4 separate regions of the Homo sapiens genome follow, and regions 2, 3 and 4 are each reported to be linked to region 1. Evidence: microRNA targets listed by miRTarBase, many of them from high-throughput screens and not tested one by one. Region 1 holds a microRNA gene; each other region holds the end of a gene's coding sequence.

Evidence for each region. The annotated mature microRNA hsa-miR-374a-5p reads UUAUAAUACAACCUGAUAAGUG and lies in region 1 at 3,515-3,536, shown strand. An mRNA with a match to its seed (bases 2 to 7 or 8) in the 3' UTR can be bound and repressed. Matches are read on the target gene's strand: a 7mer-m8 pairs with bases 2 to 8, a 7mer-A1 pairs with bases 2 to 7 and ends in A, and an 8mer does both.
Region 2: miRTarBase lists STAU1 as a target of hsa-miR-374a-5p. Seed matches in the 3' UTR shown: 7mer-A1 at 418-424.
Region 3: the mRNA of PLAG1 is a reported target of hsa-miR-374a-5p. Seed matches in the 3' UTR shown: 7mer-m8 at 2,688-2,694, 7mer-m8 at 589-595 and 8mer at 449-456.
Region 4: the mRNA of ADD3 is a reported target of hsa-miR-374a-5p. Seed matches in the 3' UTR shown: 8mer at 522-529, 8mer at 746-753 and 8mer at 877-884.

The regions. Positions count from the first base shown.
Region 1 is chrX:74,285,784-74,290,860 of GRCh38, reverse strand. MIR374A (microRNA 374a) reads left to right here and starts at 3,504; the gene lies at 3,504-3,575. The region is part of intron 1 of FTX (FTX transcript, XIST regulator); the gene reads left to right. It overlaps MIR545 (microRNA 545), which reads left to right and starts at 3,652; the gene lies at 3,652-3,757. It overlaps LOC124905199 (a long non-coding RNA gene), which reads left to right. Exons shown (of 2, transcript XR_007068266.1): 2 at 431-2,996. RefSeq lists an enhancer at 1-406.
Region 2 is chr20:49,110,209-49,115,274 of GRCh38, reverse strand. It overlaps STAU1 (staufen double-stranded RNA binding protein 1), which reads left to right. Exons shown (of 14, transcript NM_017453.4): 14 at 382-1,936. The coding sequence ends at 397. Among named protein-coding and RNA genes, the nearest start is that of CSE1L, 66 kb to the right of the region's middle.
Region 3 is chr8:56,162,093-56,167,158 of GRCh38, forward strand. It overlaps PLAG1 (PLAG1 zinc finger), which reads right to left. Exons shown (of 5, transcript NM_002655.3): 5 at 1-5,066. The coding sequence ends at 4,151. Among named protein-coding and RNA genes, the nearest start is that of PLAG1, 47 kb to the right of the region's middle. RefSeq lists an enhancer at 4,577-5,066.
Region 4 is chr10:110,133,119-110,138,184 of GRCh38, forward strand. It overlaps ADD3 (adducin 3), which reads left to right. Exons shown (of 15, transcript NM_016824.5): 15 at 208-2,447. The coding sequence ends at 500. Among named protein-coding and RNA genes, the nearest start is that of MXI1, 72 kb to the right of the region's middle.

The DNA.
Region 1 (5,077 bases):
TCTTTTATGATTTCAAAATTTGTTTGTAACTAACCAAAACCATTTGAGAAAGAAGACCTGTTTTCTGTTTCTGACTGTGCAGACTACAGGGTTACATACCTAGGAGACAAAAGATAAAGAATTGTTGATTTGGTGCCTAGTGGGGTGGCTATCCTTAACTACCCTTGTTTTCTGTGCTTTTTGTTCTGCAGAGGGTCTAAAATGGCCGACTGCGGCAGGCTGGACACACCCTTCTTGTTTTGCCTGATTTTCTGTCTGATCTAATGCTTTGAGACATCTAACCAGTCATTTACTGCAGTAGTTTTTTTTTTAACCCATTATTAGTATTTCGTGTTGATCTAAATATACAATAGTGATGGAAAGGTTATTGTCTTTTTTCTTGTAATAAAAGACTGAAAATACATTTGTTTTATTTTTATTATTTGCTTAGGATACATTCGTGGAAGTGGAGTTAGTACATCAAAGGGTATGAACATTTTAAACTCTCAGTATCTATTGCCAAATTTCTTCCTAAAAAGGTTGTATCAATTTTTACTCATACAAGCGCTGAATGTTGTTGTTTTTTAATTTTTAATGGATAAAAACCAGTATTAATTTTTCGTTTGCCTATTAGTTTGGATTTTCTTCCTCCATATATATCTCAGCAGTTTTCTTTCATGTAATGATAGTTCATATCTTATGTTGATTTATGCGTTGAAGTTTTAGTTTACTGTTTATTATTATCTGTTTGTGTTCTGTAAATAAAGATTAGTATTCAGACTTTTGTAATGTTATAAATACCTACTCCATGTTATTGTTTGCCTCTTAATTTTTGTCTTTAAATTTTTGGCTAGTAGAGATTTGAAATTATTTGACAAATTTATCTTCTATTTTGTGATTTTTATTCTATTGTTTAAATTTGAATAGCTCCCTCAGTCTAGAAATTTGGTAAATATTGTAACTTTGCCTGAGGGTAACTATCAAGCATGGGAGAAAAAACATCCATGATTTTACCACCCAGAGATAACTATTGTTAATACATTTATTCACTTCATTCTCTGCATTTTTCTTTGCAGTTGATAATATATGTGTACTATTTTATATTGTGTTTTGTTTTTAACATTATAACATGCGCATGTCCATGTTAAACATTCTTTGTAATTGTCATTGTTTCATGATGTTCTGTTGTATGGAAGTATTTTACAGATTTTCAGTATTTTAAATTATGTAATGAATATCTTTTCATTTGGTTTTTATTATTTATTTTGGGTTGTTTATCGAAGAGACTTCTAGAATTAGTTATTTGTCAAAAGATTTGAACATTATAAAGAATTGGCATATTTACTTTTCAAAAAATTAATGTCAGTTTTTGTACCCAGTCATTTAGGTACTTATAAAAAATGTTTTTGCTTTTTTTTTTTTTGCTGACTCCATATGTAAATGAATGAATGATATCTCTGTGGGGTTTTTTTGTTTTTGTTTTTTTCTGAGACAGGCTCTCCCCCTGTCGCCTAGGCTGGAGTACAGTGGCGTGATCATGGCTCACTGAAGCCTCAACTTCCAGGGCTCCAGAGATCCTCCTACCTCAGCCTCCTGAGTAGCGGGAGTACAGGTGTGTGCCACCATGTCCAGCTAATTTTTAAATTTTTTTGTAGAGATGGAGTTTTGCCATGTTGCTCAGGCTTGTCTTGAACTCCTGGGCTCAAGTGATTTTCCCACCCCGGCTTCCCAAAATGCTGGGATTACAGGGGTGAGCCACCATACCTGGCCGATATCTTTGTTTTGTGATACAGTTCTCTGATTATTAGTGAGGCTGGACTTTTAGATCTTAATTACTAGCTCTTATTTCCTTTTGTGAATTATTCAATTTGTGCCTGAATGTTATTTGTAAGTTGCAAATGTCGTTTGTTGCAGATATGCTCCCAGTAATATTTGTTGCCATTGAGTCTGAAGAAATGTTTGCAATTCCAAATATAACTGCTGTGTGGATACATGTCTGGTTCTTGGTAGCCATTTTGAGATAACATTTGTCTGACCTCTATCTTATTTTTGTTTTTATTTTTAGAGTGGAGGTCTTGCCCAGGCTGGTCTCGAACTCCTGGGCTCAAGCAATCTTTCTGCCTCCGCCTCCCAAAGTGCTGGGATTACAGGCATAAGCCACCTTACCCAGCCTTGTCTGACCTTTAAACAGAAATCCATTTCTTTTTATCTAAAAGGAAAGCACTTTTGAGTACTGTACAACAGTGGTGCTTCCTGGCTCTGGGCATGGGGAGAAGACAGGGCAACATTTTGTCCCTAATGAGAAACTAATTTAGACAAGAAACAAAACAGCGGTCCCTTCTCCCCCATCCATTCAGGGACTGGTCTTATTTTAAATATTTCTGAGTGGTCTGAGGGAGGATATGGGCAATATTGAAGTGTCCACATTTATACATACTGTTAAATGCTTTGGGGATGTGAAATGCTAATAGGAACACGCTAGCATGTGAGAAGGCACCAGGAGTGGGCTAATTGGCAGAAAGGAACAGTGTATAGGCAAGAGCAGTGAAATAACTTTAGGGGAAAATAGTATGTTAAGCTTATTAAATAACAGCCTCATAGAGACATTGGGTCCCAAAACAGTGATCTCAGTATAACTGTCAACAACTTGCTGATGTTATCAGCCCTATTTGCTGGTCAGAGACAAAAAAGCCAGTAAAAACCTAGGTATTATTAAGAAAGGTATGAGGCACAGAAAAATGCCATCTTATCTTTGTATAAAACCATCTGAACCAAATAACTATTACAGTAATAATCTTGCCTCAAGGAGTCTGTTACTATCACTCACATGATTTTGAAAAGGGAGTGGGCAGAGTGTGTTATCTCTCTGTTTCATTTTTCTTGTTTATAATACATAGGTGAATTAGATATTCTCAAAGGTCTTGGAGGGGTCTAATTCTGGTTTCCTGAAACTGAATGTTATTTCTAGTTTAGAGAATCTGTTTAATTATGTTTATTAAATAAACTTTTCTAACTTATTCCTACTCTGATCTGTATATTATCTATTTTGTATTTAATAACATTCTAACTTTTTTTTTCCAGTGAAGGATGAGGATTATTGGATTTAGAAGTGCCAAATGAGCTATTACTTACTGCTTTTTGCTATCCGGTTACACTGGGTTAATCCAGTTAGTTGTAAGCTCCCATTTTTCAGCATTTTGCTAGCTGTAGATATTAAACCAGGCTCATGTGGGTAGTAGGGTGGGGAGGTTAAGAGGAGTATAAGCAAAAAGGAAAAAAAAAAGCTCATATTTTAGAGGAGGGGATTGAGAAGTTCCTTTATTGGAAGTCTGTGCATGGAAGTCCCATTTTACATCATGCCAGTGTCTAGTTCCCAATTCCGTCTATGGCCACGGGTTAGGGAAAGCCTGAATATTTGAAATAACCGAAAAGCATTTAACCTTTGATTTCTATAATTTGTTCCTCACCTCTCTTGATGTTACAGCCAGCAGCAGCCTGGAGCAGCACCCCCTGGGAAGAAATTTTACATCGGCCATTATAATACAACCTGATAAGTGTTATAGCACTTATCAGATTGTATTGTAATTGTCTGTGTATATGCCTGTCTCTCTTCCTGTTATCAGTTAGACTGTGAGCTCCTTGAGGGCAAGGAAGGTGTCTTCATCTCCAGAGCCCAGCCTGGCACATTAGTAGGCCTCAGTAAATGTTTATTAGATGAATAAATGAATGACTCATCAGCAAACATTTATTGTGTGCCTGCTAAAGTGAGCTCCACAGGCTCTGGATTGTCAGCTGTTTCTTCAAAAAGCATGTGGTCAGAAATTTGATATTTCTGTATATATCTTCCTAAGAGTTTCTCATGAGACAATGCCATTTTTGTGTTTGGATTTCAGTCCTTGATATTTACAGATGTTGCAACTGTTGCTATTGCTGACACTTGCTTTCTTGGTGGGACTTGAGTGATAACTGTTAGATTGGGGCCTCATCCTCAGGGCCCAGGTAATCATCCAAATAGTATTCTTAGATAGGACTTTGCATTTTTCTTTCTTTTTTTTTTTTTTTTAAGGGACAGGTTCTCACTCTGTTGCCCAGGCTGGAGTGCAATGGTGCGAACACGGGTCACTGCAGCCTCGAACTCCTAGGCTCAGGTGATCTTCCACCTCAGCATTCTGAGTTAGGACTATAGGTGTGTGCCACCACCCCTGGCTAATGTTTGTATTTTTCGTAGAGAAGGGGTCTCGTTATGGTGCCCAGGCTGTTCTTGAACTCCTGGACTCAAGCGATCTACCTCCCTCAGCCTCCCAGAGTGCTGGGATTACAGGTGTGAGCCACTGCACCCAACCAGACTCCATATTCTAAACCAAGGGTGGGCAAACTTTATTGCCCATGGGCTACCTGTTTTTGTAAATACCATTCTATATTGGAACACAGCCATGTTCATTCATCGATGTTTTACCTGGGGCCGCTTTTGCGGCCCAGTGGCACAATTAAGTAGCTATTAGGTTGGTGCAAAAGTAGTTGCTGTTTTTGCCATTAAATATATTGGAGACATTGTGGCCCACAAAGCCTTTGTAGAAAAAGATCTGTGCCCACTCTGGATCATCACTCGACAGTGATGGTTTCATTTCTCATTCCATTCACCAGACCAGAAATTCATATTTATTTACTTCATTTGTCATTGCTTGTGACAAGTCTTTTTCCTCTTTTACAGATAAGCCAGCTAAGACATGTTTTAAAGTAGAAGATTATAAGACCTCCCCCAGGGTCCTGCAGTCAGTCAGTTATACCCTGCCCTTCAACATCAAGCTTTGAACCTCTACTCTAGAAATACCTTTTATTATATTCAAACTTGAAGCACGTGGACATAGCATGCTTTGGTGCCTTCGTCCTTGCCCCCCTCCTTCCTACACAGTTCTTTGCAATGAGAATATGGGAAATAAGGACTTAATGTGAGATAAGGCAGAAAGGTAAGCTGAGGCAAATGTTTAGAGGGTCCCTAACACTAATTTTTAAATGAAGAAGTGGGGTGTCTGAAATACTCATTTATTTAGATGTATACAGATAGTGAGCCTAGACTTCCAAGAGCTTAGAGCCCCTC
Region 2 (5,066 bases), not on the chromosome of region 1:
TGGTCAGAACTCTGCATTATTTTACAAGGTACAATCTTCCCCTCGGACAGCCCCCATCCCATCCCTCCTATTCTCCCCACCGCCTCCCCCATAGATCACATTTTTACTAGTTTCTCCTGTATCTTTCCTGTATGTTTCTTTATACAAATATAGACATATATTTCTTCCCTCATTTTCTTCCTTTCCCCCCACAGAGATAAGTACACACACTCTCCTTGCGTATTTTACTTACTGGCATACCCTGGGAAAACTTTTGTTATCATAAACTGGGGCTTTTAGTATTGTACTTCCTGATGTTTGCCAATTTCTTTTCATTTTTAACAGTACTTTAATTCTCTTACATTTCAAAACTAGTGTCATTTTCATTTTTCTTCCTTAAAGGTGTGGGAGGTGCTGAACCTTTTCTGGCCATGAACCATTATAAAATCCCAACATATATACTGAAAATACTGAAACTGCTTTGAAAATTTGGAATTTCTGATACCTCCAGTGGGCCGAGAGACACGGTGGGTAAAGGATGTGGGCAGCAGCAGGGAAGACAACAGAAACACAAGGAGGCGGCTGTGGCCGGGCTGGACTGTGCTGGGGTTTGTTGTGATGGCCACTCGGTGACCTGGCGGTCCCTACGCAATAGCAGCTGCCTGTGGGGAAGAAGGGCTGCCCAGCCAGCTGGTTCTCCCGGGACACCAGCAGATCCACACCCTGGGCACCTCCGTGTTTGGTCTTTTTTTTCCCCTGTGTGAAAGAAGAAACGGCACGACCCCTTCTCAAGCTGGCTCACTCAGACACATTGGGACAAACCCTGGACAGCCATGCCAGAGAGAGGCCTTTGACCGGCCCCAGAGCTAAAAGCACCAGAGAAAATCAAATGCTTCCTACTCAGCGTGACCCAACTTTTCTAGTGTGCCACGGCCCCACCACCTCCTGCAGTACCCACACCATCACCACTGCTTTCTCTTCCAACAGTGATCTGTATTCTTAGTTTCATTATTTTCTTTTGATTGATATGACACTATATAAAATTTTCATTTGAGAATTTCTCAATTGTATCTAGTTAAATAGCACAGTTTGGAAACTTGTCTGAGACTGACTTTATCAATAATCTAACCGACAAAGATCATATCCATGTGTATGTGGTTAGACATTTTTATTTCATTGACTAACCCAGGACAGTTTCAGTGATGCAAATTGTGTGCCCTCTGGTTCAGCTGAAACAGTCCTGGACTTTCAAAAACCTTGAATAAGTCTCCCACAGTTGTATAAATTGGACAATTTAGGAATTTTAAACTTTAGATGATCATTTGGTTCCATTTTTATTTCATTTTTATTTTTGTTAATGCAAACAGGACTTAAATGAACTTTGATCTCTGTTTTAAAGATTATTAAAAAACATTGTGTATCTATACATATGGCTCTTGAGGACTTAGCTTTCACTACACTACAGGATATGATCTCCATGTAGTCCATATAAACCTGCAGAGTGATTTTCCAGAGTGCTCGATACTGTTAATTACATCTCCATTAGGGCTGAAAAGAATGACCTACGTTTCTGTATACAGCTGTGTTGCTTTTGATGTTGTGTTACTGTACACAGAAGTGTGTGCACTGAGGCTCTGCGTGTGGTCCGTATGGAAAGCCTGGTAGCCCTGCGAGTTAAGTACTGCTTCCATTCATTGTTTACGCTGGAATTTTTCTCCCCATGGAATGTAAGTAAAACTTAAGTGTTTGTCATCAATAAATGGTAATACTAAATTTTTTTGTTAATTTATTCTCAAATGCCACTACTGCTAGGTTGGTCCCCTCCCAACTTGCCCCTATCCTTTTTTTATTTTTAAGAAAAAAACTTTGTAATGCTTGTGATTCCATCTGGGCAAAAGTCTGAAGATCTGAAATAACTTTATATCAAACCATTGATCAATAAACAGCTACTAATGAAGTGTTTGGTCCTGTTGAGCAGTAACTAAAATAAGGGAAGATGTGAGTAAGGGGATGGAAGCTCGTCGTGGGGGGACCAGGGCCAGCCCCTCTGGGAAGCGTTGCTGCCTCAGAGGCATGTTGGGTACCTGGATGTAGGGACTTGTGCCCCGTCCAGACCTGACATTGCTACCCAAAGAAATGACCCCAAGGAGCTGAGAGGAGACTGCCGGACACTTCCCAGGGCATCCTCATCTCTCACCATAACTGAGCACTGAGGAGGACATGCGTTCCAGCCTGGTTGAGGGTTGGGCTAGTTGGTTTTCATTTTTTAATTTTAGAAGAAGTGGAAGAAGATTATAAAGGCTTCACTGTAAAGCCAGCCTATGATTGTACTGCCGGAATAACTGAAAGTGATCAGAAGGTTATGGAAAACACTAAGGGCAGAAGGAAATGCAACATTTTGAGGAGAAAAGCAGTGAAAGGAGAAAAAGTGTCTTTACGTCTTTAAAAACAACAAAAAAAGAATTCATGGACCTGTGACTCACATCACAACCCTCCCCCAGACTGAAGGTTCTTAGAGAAGCTGAGCCTGGGGCCCTGACTTGATGCACTTTCGCAGGGAGCGTACTTGCTGGCGGCAACACTGGAAGCCGACCAGTGTGATCTTTTGTGTCTTCGACTATTTATAAAAATTCATTCTGGGCCGGGCGCAGTGGCTCACACCTGTAATCCCAGCACTTTGGGGGGCCGAGGCAGGTGGATCATGAGGTCAGGAGATCGAGACCATCCTGGCTAACACGGTGAAACCCCACCTCTACTAAAAATACAAAAAAATTAGCCGGGCATGGTGGCAGGTGCCTGTAGTCCCAGCTACTCGGGAGGCTGAGGCAGGAGAATGGTGTGAACCCGGGAGGCGGAGCTTGCCGTGAGCAGAGATCGCGCCACTGCACTCCAGCCTGGGCGACAGAGCGAGACTCCGTCTCAAAAAAAAAAAAAAAACTCATTCTGGGTACTTCATTGAAGAAGGGGTGCCCTGGGGTAACTTTGGTAATACACTCAAGTAAGCATTAAGTGTTAAAAATATTACAATAAAAAATTATAGTTCAAAAACAGTAGTAAGTTTTTCTTCTTTTTATTTTTATTTTTTTGAGATGGAGTCTGGCTCTGTCACCCAGGCTGGAGTGCAGTGGTGCAATCTGGAATCACTGCAACCTCCTCTTCCCGGGTTCAGGCAATTCTCTTGTCTCAGCCTCCCTCCTGAGTAGCTGGGATCATAGGCACGTGCCAGTGCGCTTGGCCAATTTTTGTATTTTTAGTAGAGATGGGATTTCACCATGTTGGCCAGGCTGGTCTCGAACTGACCTCAAGTGATCTGGCCACCTCGGCCTCCCAAAGTGCTGGGATTACAGGTGTGAGCCACTGCGCCTGGCTTAAGTTTTTCATGAGTAGCTTTGCATAGTAAGACATTACAATATAGCTTTTTTTTTCCTTTTTGAGACAGTAGCTTGCTCTGTTACCCAGGCTGGGTTGCAGTGGCCTCAAGCGATCCTCCTGCCTTGACTTCCCAGAGTGTTGGGATTACAGGTGTGAGCCACTGCACCCAGCAGTATATAGCCTTTCTTTACTACTTTTTTTTTTAAAGACAGTGTCCTGCTCTGTCACCCACACTGGAGTGTAGTGGCATGATCACAGCTCACTGCAGCCTTGACTGGGCTCAGGTGATTCTCCCACCTCAGTTTCCTGAGTAGCTGGGACTACAGGCACATGACACCATTCCTGGCTAATGATTTTTTTTTTTTTTTAAGAGAGAGGGTCTCACTACATTGCCCAGGCCAGTCCAACTGGGTTCAAGTGATCCTGTCATCTCATCCTCCCAAAGTGCTGGGATTGCAGGTGTGAGTCACTGCACCTAGTCCTTTAACTTTTAAAATTTTATTTTAAAATAATTTCACAGATAAAAGGTACATTTTACTGAAATTATGTGTACATTGTCTCCCCTGGTCTCCCTCTCTCTTCAAAATTTAGATATTCCCCCAAGTCAGGGAGTGAACACTGCATCCAGTCCATGGACCCCATGCAGATCTCGCCAGCTGTCCCAACAGTGTCTTGTCCTTTCCTGGTCCAGGGTCCCTGTCAAGAGGTGTGTGTTGCCTTTAGTTTTCTCCTGCTGTCTGCATCAGTCCTCTCGGCATCTGTGTTTCACGTCCTAGTGGGGTGAAGCCCGCAGACCTCTCTGTAGTACACCCTCAGCCTGGGTCTGGATGATGGTGACCAGACCTAGGCAGCACTTTTGTGGCAGGAAAGCCACAGAAATGCTGCGCTCTTCTCTGTATGTCACTCCAGGGGCATACAGTTTGTTAACCTTGGTGACCCAGGCAGATTGCTCCACTGTCAGTCAGGTCACACTATGTCTCTTGGTAATCAAGGAGTATTTTGTGGGGAGGCATCCTCAAAGCACATGACCAGCCTGTTCCTCTTCAGACCTCTACCCTCCATCCTTGTCCTTCACTTACAACTTCCATGTGAATCCACCACCACTGCCCATCCATGAGCTTCCATGTCCAATGTTCCTTCTGCCGACACCCTGCCCCTGCATGGAGGCGCCTTCCCTCCCCATTGATGCAGTGTGTCAGCTAATGGACTCCTAGTCTGGGTCGCAATCCATTGCAACCATTTATTTGATGTTCAAATTACTTCAAATTTGGACATCAGAAGACCTGTCAAGGTGACTCTTGTGTCCTTTTGGCATGTTTCCATCTTAAAATTGTAAAAAATTGTGGTAAGACACATAGAAAATTTACCATCCTATTAACCACTTTTTTTTTTTTTTTTTTAAAACAGCATCCCAATCTGTCATCCAGGCTGGAGTGCAGCAGTGTGATCCTGGCTCACTGCAACCTTGCTCTCCTGGGCTTTCCTCCTACCTCAGCCTCCCGAATAGCTGAGACTACAGGTGTGCACATCCATGCCCAGCTAATTTTTTTTTGTACAGTCGAGGTCTTGCTATGTTGCCCAGACTGCTAACTACTTTTAAGTGTACAGTTTATTCATAATGTGTAGCCACCACAATCCAACTCCATAACTTTTCATTTTGTAAAACTTAAACTGTTCCCATGAAACACTAACTCCCCTCGCATGCTCCTTCCAGC
Region 3 (5,066 bases), not on the chromosome of region 1:
CACAACTTATGTAGATCTATGTGATCACAACAGACTTATCTGTGTTGTAGACATGGCTGCTGACACAGTGTGAGAAAAACAAGACAAATTCAACTTAGGCACACATTTACCAGAACTAACAGCCAGCCATTGCTAATGACGAATACTAAACATTTAAAAGATCTCCTCCAATGTCACATGGATCTCAGTAGGCTAGAAGCAACTTGGGTGAACTGGTATTTTTTAACTTACGTACTGGGAAGACAGTGTGCTTTGAGACACGTAAACCTTGTAAAAAAATAAACCATTGTAAAACCTTATGAAAAGACACACACTGATTCTGTGCAATATAGCAAATTGATAAGAAAACACTGTAAAAATGTACCTGTTTAAAATACCATCTACCATTTTTGTACACAAAGCATTATATATCAAAGGCCTACATATATATCATCTAATGGCACTTGAATTATAATAAGTCTTAAAATAAAAGGCATAACCTATAAGAAAGTTTCTGTAAAGGTTTAGATTCATTTTGAAAGTGCTATATCTTGTAATATGTGTAGTATAGAGGTTGACCAAGCTCTATTTTTTAAAAAAATATTGGCCTATAATATGTGTATTGCTCACTAGATGAACGATCCTGAAAATATGTACTCTTTAACATTCATTATTAGCTTAATAAAGCAATCGGCTCTGGCTCATGTTTCAGTCAGTATATGGTTTTTAAAAACCGCTACTGTCCAAATTAACACAATATATCACTATATTCCACAAATGACTAAGAAAAATAAAGCACAAGCAACAAATAGGCAAAAATACACAGCTTGAAAGAAACACTAAATGAAATAAAAAAGTTGCACACAGAGTGATGCATAATCAGCCAGGACAATTGAAGTTTTAAAAAACTGAACTTGGTAATAGGATTTTAAAATGAAAGTTTTAACAGTGATCGATAACTATAAAGGTACTTGTATACATCAATGGATAGCATTGCTTACAGTGCCAAGATCCTTCCACACTCACACTTCCGTGTTTGGTGACCTAACTTGTACATACATGTGGAAGTGAAACTGAATGAGGTTCAATATCTTGTCTGAGGCCCAAATTCTAAACTACTTTTATTTAATGTTAATCCCTTTTTTTTTTTTTTTTTTTTTTTTTTAACCAAGCTAAGGCACTACCAGAAATTTCAAGGATAATGATTCTGGCCACTAGAGAATGAAAACAGCATTGGCAATACTTATTTTTAATCATATCTAGTTGACATAGAAACAAACAATCTTTTTCTAGGGAAAAAAAAGCCAATTCTGTGTTACATCCTTGTTAGAACATTGTGCAATTCAAATAAGCGAGTCTGCCTCATCTTTAATAGAAATTCTCTCAAAAAGGGTTTAGTGACCACTACAGTCAATTTTAAAAACAAATTAGCTGAATTCCCTCTTACTCTGAAGTGTTATTTCAAGTCTGGGGGTGGGAACAGGCAAAGAGGTGTACACATGAAAATTAAGACTCCAAAATTTTAACACTGGTGCCCTGAAGATGTGCCTCCATGTATTTGAATTTCATGCAGGGCAAGATTTAAGTATGTGTGTGTGTGTGTATATATACACACACACACACACACATACACATACATACATATATGGCGCTATTCCCCATTTCCAAAATGCTTTACTTAATAAATCCTGGTACTCCCTTTTTTAAATTAGCAGTGAATACAGCCTACTAAGGCCAATGTCTCAGTTCACTAATTTGATGACTTCTTAAGTACATTTTAAACAGAATAAAGTAGTGCTTCCACACTTGCTATTTGTGATTTCTATTTAAAAATAGGTTTTCTATTTGTGCTCTGTCACCAATTTTTTTCCTTTTATATGGTGATTAAAGCAATATTGAACACTAATCATTCAACTAAAGATTTAGGTAAGCAATCTGTTTCATAGAAACTAAAGGAAGCAGTAATGAAGCAGAGCGAAAAGCCTACTTTCAGAAAAAATATTCTCCTAATCAAAAGCTAGGAGCAGTTTGAAAAATTTAAAAATGTACTTCCTTATTAACATATATAATTTTAATGCCTTTGGAACACACTTTTTTAATAAATGTAATTTTTCATAATAAAATTTAAATACATAAGTATAAAAACTACTGCTCCAAGGATTAAAAAAATATAGGAGCATGATAAAATATCAGGAGCCAAAGCTCCTTCAGAGAGCAACTTTGATTCTATGAAGTGCGGTATGTGTGCATGTGTGTGTGTGTGTGTATTATATATATATATTGAAGCCCCCATTTACATTATTACAATTTACATTTCTCCACAAATTATACTACTCCCAAATATTTTAAATAATGTATTATATTCAGTAATCTGCACTCATTTTTAGAAATTCTTGGTAAACATTGCAATCTGCAGTGATAACTGGCCCTACAAAAAGGAAAGAAGTTTCCATATAGGGCTAATGAGTGCTCAGAAATATTTTTCTTTCTGTTTTTTTTTAAAGAGATATATACTCTTCTAAAAACCTCCCACCCTTGCCCCCATCCCCAACGGAAAGGGTCCTAAAATAAGGTGTTAACAAGTGCTTAATAGATATGTTTCTTAGGTTAATGTCCCAACTGACCCTTAGAAAAATATATTAATTAGACCTTTAAGAAGATTATGTTGGTTGTCTAATGTGAGGAAAAGCCTATAATTATTCAGTGAATATAATATATTCTCAATTGTTATTTTCATGTTAACCAAGATAGGTTTGTTTTACTTTACTTTGTTACCCTCTACAAACTCAACTTATTTGCAATACTCCTATCATTTCCCAGAGATGCATGAAAGTGGGATTTTACTGTATATATTTCTAGTCACTTAAAACTTTGTGGTAGTTCATCAGGTAGTTTTCTAATGCATTTAACTTCAAATTCTCCATCCAAAATATTGCAAGGAAAGATGGATTCACATTGAATCAGAAAGATAACATCGGAGTAGGACTGTTGTTTTTGTTTTCTGCTTTTGATTCTTAAGGGAAAGAAAAACATATCAAATTCAGCAAGAAATGATATAAGCGATATGCTTTTACTTTACTTCTAAAAAGTCCAGTTTTTAACCCTGGCTACAGGGGCCATGATCCCTACACAAGTTCCCAAATGTAACCATGTGCTTCACGTCTATCTTCCTGCTTAGAAGTCTGTCACCCACAGAGGCTGAGTCAATCCACTGTGGGATAAACACACCTCATGGCTGCAGTTCCACAATGGCTCTAGATTATGGACTAACCGTGGGCCAACAATGAAAATAAATTGCTGGCTGCACTTGACCCACCCCTTGGATGTGAAAGGTGGAAAAGACTAAAGAGATCTACCTATATATCGACTCTGAAGACCCCAATGCCATACACTATTACTATTATTAAATGAAAAGATAGCATGTTAAGAAGGATGAAACACGACAAAATATCCTGTGTACTAATTTAGGGCCAACTATTAAGTGACACGAAATGCCATGTCACCTAACAGAGTCTCTTTTTGCTATAAATACTGATGCTTTGTGTTTAGGGTTTGTTTTCCTTAAAGGCTCATAATAAAGATGGCAAATATTTTAGCCAGACAACAGGGAGTCTTCAGAATATACTGATCTGAAATTATGGTGTATCTAACAAACATTTATTATCTTCCGAAACTGGACTCTTAATTCATTTGAAGCACTTGATTATTAATCCATTTAGAAGCTAGTAAGAAAATTTAAACCCTTGAGTTATTCACAAACTTTTTATACAATTTACATTCTATTGCTAAATTTTTTAATGAGCCAGATGTCAAAAGGTAGAGCCACTGTTATTAGACAAAAATGAAAATTTTAAGATCTAAAAGTAATTTGAAAATGGGATTTGTAAAAGTTTACTACTAATAATGGCTTTCCTATATGGAAAAAAAAAAGTCTTAAAATGTGACAATTGGCAGTGAATCAGGACAAAATACCCAGGTAAACTTAACTGAACACAAATGGTTCCAAAGCTCAGTTTAAAAGCTAGTTTCTATTTTATACTGGCTTAATGAAAATTTGTATTATACAAAAGCAGAAATTTTTATACTGTTTTAAAGTAGGCACTAAAATAAAAATGGTCATCTAGGGCACAGCTACACATACATTTCTGTAATGAATCCATGTCCCAGAATCCTACTGAAAAGCTTGATGGAAACGTGGGAGGGTGGTACTTGTGCTTAAACTGCTGGTGAAAGCTGCTGACAGTGAGTGCAGAGACCCAAGCCCTATAGTGTTTGCAGGATCCTGAAGATCCTGTGTTTGTGGGGGGAGCTGGGAAACAGAAGAATGTGCTTCTTCCTGGGAATAGCTCATTCCAAGGCTCCCCACTGATAGAGGATTATAGGGAGGACCATTTAAAGGTATGAAATTAAACAACTGAGAAAAATCCAATGCTGGTGTGTTTAGGGGGTCACTGATGGAGATAGAGCTTTTGGATAGGGAGAGGTCTCCTGCACCATCATCTAGGGACCCAATCTGAGGATCCAACCCTAGCTTAGATGATGACGATGCTTGAGAATCTTGGGATGAAGAGGGCACGCCACCTTGTAACTCCATCAGGTAACTCTCAATTTCCCCCTTTAATGGCTGTTCTTTTTCAGGAATAGAAATTGCATATGAGGTAGAACTGAACGGATATTTGAAAGAAAGGTGGTGAGAGGGATGAACAGTGTCCATATCTATTGGGCATGTCATTCCCAAAGGTAAAGTTGTGATCATTTGGTGGGCAGATCCCGAGCTCTGCATGGACTGAAATGGAGTGTTGTAGAGGTTTAACTGCAAAGTGTTTGTGAATGGCTTTGATAACAGTTCACTGGAAGGTAAGGACATCACCGGAAGGAGCTCGTCTTTTATAGGCACAGACACATTGCAGGTAAATGGGTCAAGGAAATCCACTGGTTCTGTTTTGACCTTCAGAAGCTCTTGATTGTGACTCTTCTTCATATGTCGAGTCAGGTGATCCTTTCGCCCAAATCTCTGTGCACAATACTGACAGAGGAAGTCCTTTCTTCCAGTGTGCACCACCATGTGTCTCCGGACATCCTTTCGG
Region 4 (5,066 bases), not on the chromosome of region 1:
GGTTTAACAACTTTGTTCCTTTCCCCTTTATATCATTAAAGAAAATTAGCTTCTTGCTAATAGATCACAGTTTATTAAAATAATGATCTGTCTTCATTGGAATCAAAGTAATGCCTTATTACATTGCTAAAACATTTCAGTTTTGTAAAGTAGAGCAAAAATGTTAAGTATGTAAAATAACCCCCAAAAAACCCTCCCCTTTCGTAGAAAACCATGAGCTGTTTTCCAAGAGCTTCATCTCCATGGAAGTGCCTGTCATGGTAGTAAATGGCAAGGATGATATGCATGATGTTGAAGATGAGCTTGCTAAGCGAGTGAGTAGGTTAAGCACAAGTACAACCATAGAAAACATCGAGATTACTATTAAGTCTCCAGAGAAAATCGAAGAAGTCCTGTCACCTGAAGGCTCCCCTTCAAAATCGCCATCCAAGAAAAAGAAGAAATTCCGCACTCCTTCTTTTCTGAAAAAGAACAAAAAAAAGGAGAAAGTTGAGGCCTAAATAAAGTCTTTTTATAATTATTATTATAACAATGTGACATTGCACATCTAAATACCACATTTAAGTTGATCATTAATATGCAATGGTAGATCAGATTGGGGGATGTAGCAAACTGGACTTTAAGAACTGGAAAGAGGTTTTACAAAAGAAAAACTTTCAGATTCATCTCTCATTTTATATGTCCAGAAATGGCTTTGAATTTTAAGCAATTACTAGTTTTAATTAGCTCTGCCCTCATGAAGTATTATTATAATTCACCATAAACAGCTATCTGTCTGAATTACTTCAGGCCTTCTCCATAATATCTGTTAGAAAGAAATTGCCAGTGAGCAAGTGAGAATTTTTATTTCTCAATACCTGCTTCACTTGATAATCATATTATAATTTTTTATCATGATTATTGACTATATTTTTGGAGTCCCATTGTTTCAGTGGGCATTAACAGAATGCTTTAAAAACTTCTAAGACAAGAATCTATAGCATTAGTATACACTGGCACATAATTTTTTAAAAAGTTTTAAGAAAAGATTCATTTGGAATTTTATTCACAGTATAAAATTTCCTCACCTGAAGTAACTTTGTTTGCCAAAAAAGTTGTTTTAATAAACTATAATTTTTGAAAACTTCCTTTTTTATTAGTTTAGAAAGCCCCTTATTTTTCAACAAAGGGGATTTTGTACACATAACATGGGTTATTTAGTTTAACTCTGGCAAAAAAAAAAAAAAAAATTTTGTATGTTGATGTTTGTATACCGTTCAGTATAAAAGTGTCCTAAGCATATTAGCCAATCTTTTCACAGTAGAGCATACTTAAGGCTGCTTGGTACTGAGTATACTTAAATATAACTCCAGAATCCAGGGACTTGGTGTTAAAACAGGATTAGAGCATGTAAAGGTACATCTAGATTCATATTTGAATCTTAAACTGTATTTTTCTCTTAGTATTGCTAATGAGTAAAGAAAAGTCTCATAAGGTAGCCAAATGAAAAAGAATGAAAGGGAAAGTGAAAAATTAAGGGGACAAAAGATGGGATGTGAAAAGAAGAATTCTAGTTTGATGGTGACTCATATTCACGATAGGATACAAAGTGTGATTTGTTGGAAACATGTCCCAAATTTCTAAAATTCTGCTTCTCTGCCAAAAGCAATGTCTTTCTTGGTTGATATTTGAGTTTTAAAAGGGTCAAATCTTTCTAATTTTTTGTATCTTTAGAGGGCAGCACTAGAAGAAATCAGCAGGTCTAATCCCACCAGTAAGAAAACTACCACTTCTTGATTTTTACAGATTTAAAAAAATCTTTTCAGTGACCTTTCTTTTTAATGTAAATACAAATTTAAACCTAGGCTTAATATAGGCGTTTCCCCTTTCACCCAAGTGATGTCACAGTTCGATGCAAAATCAATGATCCAGAATGATCGTGGGTAAAAATAACTCAAAGTGTTTCTTAAGGGTGAGTTGGCATGCAAAAAATTACATTGATTACAGTGTGTTTTGGAGCTGGCTCTGTTTGTGTGCATATGATAATGCAGAGTTGAGCCAGAGCCTGGAAATGTCATTCTAGATCTCACTAACTACTGGAATCAGTGTTTTAATCTCTTGGTGGAAACTTTCAGTTGCTTAACTCTCTATTGGAAGATTTTTTTAATGTTCTACATCATTTATGTTGTATTACAATGTATGTAGAAATAGTAACCTGTGAACTATGCTTTTCCATAACTTTTTAAAAATATATATATCTAAATGAATGCAATGTGCATAAATATTTTTTAAACATAACAGTGAACTATTGCACCTTTTGCTAATGCCTCTATTTACTTGCTTTGGCATAAAGAATGAGCCAATGAACCTCTGTGTCCTGTGGAAAAATGTATAAATGTTATCTGATATTGCTCTTAGATGTAATGCTAATTAATGTTAAATCACAAATAAACAGTATTTTAAATATACGGACTTGTATCATGAGGTTTCCATTCACAGGTGGTTACTTAGCCTATTCATGGTCTGTTGAGTTTTATACTTCAGTGAAACTTGGTAAGTTATTGATGCTTCTGAATAAAGAATGTCCTGATAAATATATTTTCAAATTAGTTGAAAATTATATATATATACAAAACCTGTCTTTTTTCAGCTTATGTTAGAGGAGATATTCCCTGAGAGACCTGTTTTGTCTCTTGATAATGGGTATGGCAGCCTCTATCAATGTAGAATAGATGTTGCAGGATATGTACCTCTCTGATTTTTAATGTATTTGTTGTACAAATAACAATGTAATAGAAAAACAGCAGAAAGAGTAGAAAGTAGTTCACAATTTTATCACATTCACTTTTTTTTTTTTTTTTTTGAAACGGAGTCTCACTCTTGCCCAGTCTGGAGTGCAGTGGCACAAACTTGGTTCACTGCAACCTCCGCCTCCCACGTTCAAGTGATTCTCATGCGTCAGCCTGTTGAGTAACTGGGATTACAGGCATGCGGCACCATGCCCAACTAATTTTTGTATTTTTAGTAGAGACAGAGTTTTGCCATGTTGGTCAGGCTGGTCCTGAACTCCTGACTTCAAACAGTCCACCCACCTCGGCCTCCCAAAGTGCTGGGATTACAGGTGTAAGCCACTGTGCCCAGCCTTTTTTCCTTTTTGACATGGTCGCCCAGGCTGGAGTGCAGTGGTGTGATCATAGCTCAATGCAGCCTCAAACTCCTGGGCTCAAGTGATCTTCCTTCCTTAGCCTCCCAAGTAGCTTGGACTACAGGCATGCACCACCACACCCAGCTATTTTGTTTCTTTGTTTTTTGTTGAGACAGGATCTCACCGTGTTATCCTGGATTCAAGTGATGCTCTTGCCTCAGCCTTTCAAATCATAAGGATTATAGACGTGAGCCACCATGTCTGGTCCATATTCACATTTAAAAAAATTATATTCCCTTCCAGCTATTATCTAGTTATATATATTTATATATATATCATTTATATGTAGGTGTTTTTTATATATTATGGTGTGAATGTAATTTTTCAGGGTTTTTTTTCCTACTTAGATAACACATCTAGATTTTCAAACTAAATCTGTCATATGAATAACTTCTTGTGATTATTTTTCTACTTTGCCCTAAAAATACAGTACAAGAGGAGGATAACATGTTAATTGAGGGCTCTGGTTAATTGAAGTTTTTACTATAATTACCCATTATAAAAATGAAGGGTTTGGTCAGAGAAAAATAGTCATAGTCTTGGGCATATTTAATTATTACCTTGGCTTGTAAATCACCCTGTGGTAAAAAATTGCTATTTTAGAAAGATGCTCATTTCAAAATTCCCTTTCATAAAGCAACAAAGGCGATTATCTTCAGTTCTCACTTGAGAGTCAATATAGTAGAAAAGTTCGCATGTGCCTTTTCTTCATTGATTAGTATTTTCATTCAGGGAATAAAAACCAAACTGATAAAATTTGTGACAGCACTGGCTTCTCTTAACATCAGGCCCCTTTTTCCCCCCCACATAGGCAGAAAATACAGACTGGTTATTTCTTTTCAAACTCAAGGTTGATACATACACATATCCAAGTTGCAATCTTGGCCAAACTGGGATTTTGATAAAAACAGTCTTGTTTGTGGCCACTAGAGGGAGTAATAGATCTAACAATCCAATGTTTCCATTCCTTGCACTGAACTTCCCTATTTAGTCTGTAGGCACCATGTTTGTTGTGAAATACCCAGAACTTGAAAGAGAAGGCATTTCCTTTGTTGTTTATTCTCCTCAGTAGATCGTTCTCGACTTTGTTTCCTTAGCAGGTCTCATTACAGATATCACCCACAGTGGAGAACACATAGAAAGTTGTGGTGTGCTCTCAGAGGCTGTGATAGGATATGACACCTCAGAGTTTTCATACCTGTGAGTGACAAGACAATGCCTTCTTCAATAATTGACTTTTTTTTTTCTTTTTTACTAAGGAGCTAACCGATAATATTTTTTGTTGATGCCTTCTGTGTACCAAACGTTAGGCTAAATGCTTTTCATATATGACTTCATTTGGCCTTCCCAGTATCCCAACAAAGTAGATGATATTATTCCCATTTTGTAGATAATGAAACTAAGGCTTGTAGAAGATGAAAAGTAGGTGGTAGGATTCCACCCATAGAGATTCAGACTTCTATAATTACTCATGCCATCTGTGTGCCAGACCCTGTGTGGCTGCAGTACATTTCCATGGTTTTTAGGAAGAGGCAGTTATCTTAGTTTGGACTGTAAGTCAAGCCACGGTGAACTTGTATTTTGATATAAGTAGATTTGGGATCAAACATTGACTTTTGATTTGGAAGACTTTTTTCCCTAACAAATCACCTCAAGAATGAAGAAATTGGTGGATACCTGAGAAGCAGGAATGACCTGTGGTGATAGCAACCTTTAGGATAAAGAACCAGCTCCTAAATCTTACACCATGACACCTGGAAGACAAGTTATCATACTTTTGCTTAAGATGCAGCAGAGACTTGAGAAGAAGCCCTTTTTCTTTTTCTTTTCTTCTTGATTTCCATTATTGGAAACAGAAGAAACATTCTAAGGAAAATGTTTT